Regions from separate parts of the Homo sapiens genome. Here region 1 is linked to region 2. Evidence: fine-mapped expression QTL. Tissue or cell type: whole blood. Region 2 holds a variant in brackets; the other region holds the start of a gene. All regions are shown on one strand. Distances are from middle to middle.

Region 1 (2,853 bases), 140 kb after region 2:
CTTAATACGAAAGTAATGTCGTCTGGCCGCAGACATTCTGAAAGTTTTGCCACATTGTTTCAAAATATTGGCTTGTAGCCCTTTTCAAAGCTACTGATTATTGAAAACTTGGCGACCATGTTTAACAATGAAGAAAAGGCTTCCCCAAGCCTACGTAGATTGGATTCTCTAATACATAGTAATAATGTTTTTTAAAATAATGAGGTGTGTAATAAAATGGAGGAATATCCATGATGCATTGTTGGCTAATAAAACGATATACTGTACTATATATGATCCCAATCTTGTTTCTAAAGCACACTCATTAAATGCACAGAAAAAAAAAATCCTGAATAACTACCCACCACACTTGGAGACTGGCTACCCTGGGTAGTAAGAAGGAGAAATATGGGGGGAAGGGCGCGAGAGAGGGCAGGTTTCCTCATTGTTTGGCTGCTTCATGTTTTTCTCAAGGAGCAAGCAGTACTTTTGTAATTAAAAAAATAAATAGGGGAAAAACACTGCTAAAAGCATACTTTTTTCCTCCGTAGCAAATTCTTCTGATTTGTAATGTTAAAAATATATCTCTGGTTTCTCGATTCTAAAAAGAGGACACACGAAAACAAAATTATAGAAGTTCCAAAAAATCTTGGATTTGCAAAATTACTCCCTCGGGTTCTGCCCGTGGGTCCTCCCCATGCCGGTGTCTGAAATTCCCCAAGCAAAACGCGGGCACTGCACTTCCCCGGAACGGTAGTAGACGCTCAAAAACACAAAAAGAGGCCTTGGCGCCTGCTATAACCTCTCAGTCCCCTCCCAGCCCCCGAGACTTCCCCGAGTCTACGTAGACTGGATTCTCTGCCTCCAAAACCAAAACAGAAGTCACTGGGCGGATCCAAAACGGCCCTAAGGGGCCCGCGGGCATCTCAAGACGCCAGCCTCGGGACTCTGGTCCCCAAGCCCAGGTCAGAGCCGAGGACGAGCCGAGGACGGGCCGAGGACGCGGCGCCCCGGCCTCCCTCGGGCCCCCGACCTCCCCGGCCCCAGGGACCCCGGCTCCCGACCTCCAGGCTTCGCTGGGCCCCTTTCGACTCCCCGACCTCCCAAGTCCTCCGCCCCCGGCCCGTCCTTCCCCCAACCTGCCCCGCAGCGCCTCAGTTTCCTGGCCCCCGACCTGCCCGCCCTTAAGTCCCCCTGCCCCCGACTCTTCGGCTGCCGTCCCCCTGGCCCTCTGGCCTCCAAGCGCATCCCAGTCGCCCGCCCGGCCCTAGCACGCGGGACTCGCACACCCCACGACCCCGAGCCCCCACTGGCGGCGGCGTTACCTGTGGCGCGGGCAGCGGCGCGCAGGCCAGGCGCTAGGACTCGGCGGGGTCCGCAGCAGCCAGACGCCGCTACCACCACAATAACAACACGGACGCCACCGCCGAGTGGAGAGGCGGGGCCCGGACCCGCGACTGGAGCAGCCAGAGCCTCCCGGACTCCGGAGCCGCCGGGGTCCGGGCATGCGCAGAGAACCACGGGCACAGGGGCAGCTCCCCGCGGACGCCAAAGTCAACAAGGCCGGGAGACGCCCCCATCTGGCCCCGCCCCCCTCAGGGCTCGCTCCGCCCCCAAGCCCAAACAACGCGAGGCCTTGACAGGCCAGAAGACGATGGCGGTAGGGGAGATCACGCGAGAGCATGGCCTCCACCTCTCCTCCCCACCGCCATCTCCACGTTCTCGCACCGGCGCTGGGGTGCAGGCTTTCAGTGGTCTCAGGGCTACGGCTTGTCGGTGCCTCGCCGCACAGTCCCCTTTGCATTGAAGGACACGGTCTTACGGTGTAGGAGCATTTTTGAGGTGCATTCCTGGATTTGGAGGCGAACCCCCAATGGTTACCTCCACAGAGGCTTTGCGAAGGGCGCTCACTGACTTAGGTGAAGAGCGAAGGCTCAAGACTGTGCCGCTTTATAGTGGCCCCTTGACGTCCAGAAGTTCCCCCCAGCGCCGGTCATAAGCACTCCCGCCGCCTGGGCCCCGCCCTGCCTGCCAGGCGCCCTCCAGCCTCAGCTCCCGGACGCCCGGCGTGGCCGCTTTCTCGCGTCTTGCTGACCCGGGCCGGGGGCGTGTGCTCCTCCTGCAGCGGACGGAAGATGCTGGGCCACGCAAGTTTCCCTGGGCTTGGTTAACCACCCCAAAGCCCATTTCCAGAAGGAAAGGGTGTTGAGGAGGAGGGATAGAAAGTCGAGAAGAGGGCCGGGTGAGTGGCTCACGCCTGTCATCCCAGCACTTTGGGAGGCCGAGACAGGCGGATCACCTGAGGTCAGGACTTAGAGACCAGCCTGGCCTACATGGTGAAACCCCGTCTCTACTAAAAATACAAAAATTAGCCGGGTGTGGTGCCGTGCGCCTGTAGTCCCAGCAACTCGGGAGGCTGAGGTAGGAGAATCGCTTGAACCCGGGAGTCGGAGGTTGCAGTGCTGAGATGGCACCTGGCCTGGGCGGCAAGAGCGAAACTCCATCTCAAAAAAAAAAAGAAGAGGAAATGAGGCATAGGGGCAGGCGAGCCGGGAAAATATTGCTACTAAGGATCCTAAGCAGTGAACATGCTGTTAATACTTGTAAGACTCCTAGCAAACTGCATTTAATTTTTTAAATTAGTTTTAGTGTACATAAAGGCATGTCTTTTCCAAATACTGTACTTTTTGAAGTGTTCTTTGTTGTTCATTAATCTTTGTGCGTTTCCCTTCAGTCTCTAATAGTAGGTTGTAGCATGATTTGCTTCCATCGTGTGAATTCTGTTCGGTTTTGATTTTCAAGTATGAGAGTGAGCGTAAGCTACCCTTATAGGTTACCTAAGGTAAGTTAGAATTAGAACGTCTTTATGCTAGG
Region 2 (2,500 bases):
ATGAAAATACCAATTAAATATAAAAAACTGAACATATTTTTCATGTACTTTGAAAAGTTTTTTTAATAATATAAACTACCTTAAAATTAAAGGCAAATGTAAATAATAATGTCAAATTTTAAATTAAATGTATTGAAATTCAACTAAAATCTTTTTCTTATGAAGATTTAATTACATCTTATTAAATATTTTTACAAAAGTAAAGCTATTTGTAATTAAACTTTCAAGGTCTTCCTAGTCACCAGTGGAGTCACCACCTCACACGTATTATAGCTAAACATACATATATATGAATGTAAGAATATTGTGAATTTAATAATAAGATGAATTGTCTAATATTCCTTAGCCACCATGTGCAAGTATCACAAATTCCATGCTAATGTATGAGTAATTCCCGACCATATTTGGTTCATAAAGAAATGCAAGGAAATAGATGTTCAACACTACATGGAAAAAATACTTTGCAACAATTAGAATGCTATTTCAAGCTGAGGGAAGGGATTTGACAAGTGATATGGTTAAGCTTTGTGTCCCACCCAAATCTCATCTTGAATTATAATCCCCATAATCCCCATGTGTCAAGGGCGAGACGTACTGGAGATAATTGGATCATGGTAGTGGTTTTCCTTATGCTGTTCTTGTGATAGTGAGTTTTCACGAGATCTGATGGTTTTATAAACGTTTGGTAGTTCCTCCCAGATGCATTCTCCTTCCTGCCACCTTGTGAAGAAGGTGCCTTCCCTTCACCTTCTGCCATGACTGTAAGTTTCTGAGGCCTCCCCAGTCATGCAGAACTGTGAGTCAATTAAACCTCTTTCCTTTATAAATCACCCAGTCTCAGGCAGGTCTCTACAGAAGTGTAAAAATGGACTCATACAGCCAGTTAATGTGCTTGTGCTTTCTCTTACCTACAAATTTCCACAGCTCTAATCCTCCCTGAGCAACAAAGCAGTGACTCTCTCCAGTGTTGCCACTGCTACTACCTATGAAT[C/A]TTGGCAGATTTGGAAACTCAGTATCACCTTTTGTTTTGAGGACAAAGAGCAAGACATGGGGAGAAGCATTTCCTGGGGCTGGAATAGAATGGACCATGAGAATAGGAGTCAGGGTTTCAGGGTGCTCTGTGCCAGCACTGAGTACTGGACCTGATGTACAGAGGCTCCCAGGGGTTCTTTGTTTGCCCCCGCATTGGTTGAAGAAGGTACCTCATCTACTCAGTCTTGTGATGCTCTCCCACAGCCACTAAGCTCTAGCCAACCTCACTGCCCTCTTTCAGTCTCTGTCCAAATTTATTCCTGTCTTAGAATTCACATCTCTGCTTGGCTGCCTCTTCTATCTGAAAGCGTCAATTTAAATGCCACCTTCTCTGGCAGGCCAGCCCTGATGAAGTTTCTAAATAAGTTCATCCCCCACCACCAGTGCCCCCTCACTGCACTCCGCTTCCTGCATAGGACGTCTCAGAATTTGCACTCTGTATTTAATCATTTTCTCTTGATTATCTATGTCCCCGATTTGAGTGTGAGAGCCACAGGGAGGGCCATGAAGCACTCTGACCAGCACAAAATAGGCACGCCCTAAATACTGGAGGGAGAGAGAGAGTAGGAGAGCAGAGAATCCTCCTCAGGCAAGAATGACTGATGGATTAGTTCTCCATTTAAAAATACTTCCAGAGATGACCATTCCTTTGTCATGCTTTAAGAGCTGTGCTGCAAGAAACTAAATAGCAATAAGCAAGAAGAACACAAATTACATTGTTCTTATACTTGACTGAACGTCAAAGGAGCCAAGTTCCCCACCTGCTCCAGTTTCCTAGACAGATGTCTGAACATTTAATTTAACGTGGGTCTTCATTTCCTGCCCAGTGAAATATCTTGCTTGGTGACAGGGTTGTTACAAGGATGAATTGGCCAAGGCAATGCCCTCGGGGCACCTAACAGTCCTCAGTAAATCCTGCTGACCTCAGCCGCCCCAAAAGTTCAGGTGCTGTTTCTTGAGGGTCCACTTAAGGCCCCTCTCTAACTTCTCTATCAGTTCTGAGGCTACTCTTCTCCAGGTAAAGGAAGAAACTCGAATTCCCTAATAATTAGCTCAGAACCCAAGCTACCCTTGTTGGAATTTATATTTTATAAACAAAAATGTATTTTCATATGTTAAAACTCGGAAGTCCATCAAAAACTGATTGTCTGTCAAGACTAATTTGGAAATCTCTCATTCTTAACAAGTTTAAAGAGTAAAAGTATATATTAATACTTACACAAGTACAAGTTAAGTTTCACACTTGATTGCCTAACTCCACATTCTAGCTGGTGTTTAGTCTAAGATGCTAGACCAGTAGGAAGGAATAAGAGAGTTAGTGAGGTTAGTAAAGCTCACAAAGTAGTATGGTTTACTAGGCTTAATTAAAAAAAAAAAAGCTATTGTGAAATTACAATGAGTAGCATTGTGTTCTAAATAAATATTCAGAGCACAGAAATAAAATGAATCCTCCCTTGGAAATTTGTCA

What was found. PIP is the estimated chance that this variant, and not a neighbour inherited with it, causes the effect.
Region 1: it holds the start of PCMTD1, and the variant in region 2 is fine-mapped to the expression of PCMTD1 in whole blood (INTERVAL, PIP above 0.99).

What each region holds. Positions count from the first base shown.
Region 1 is chr8:51,897,626-51,900,478 of GRCh38, forward strand. It overlaps PCMTD1 (protein-L-isoaspartate (D-aspartate) O-methyltransferase domain containing 1), which reads right to left and starts at 1,411. Exons shown (of 6, transcript NM_052937.4): 1 at 1,305-1,411. It overlaps PCMTD1-DT (PCMTD1 divergent transcript), which reads left to right and starts at 1,690. Exons shown (of 4, transcript NR_189279.1): 1 at 1,690-2,221. RefSeq lists a silencer at 918-1,607 and enhancers at 1,648-1,937, 2,108-2,167, 2,468-2,527.
Region 2 is chr8:51,757,963-51,760,462 of GRCh38, forward strand. The region is part of intron 1 of PXDNL (peroxidasin like); the gene reads right to left. LOC105375833 (a long non-coding RNA gene) reads right to left here. Exons shown (of 3, transcript XR_928869.3): 2 at 2,252-2,320. Among named protein-coding and RNA genes, the nearest start is that of PXDNL, 50 kb to the right of the region's middle. The variant C/A (reference allele first, on the strand shown) is at 992.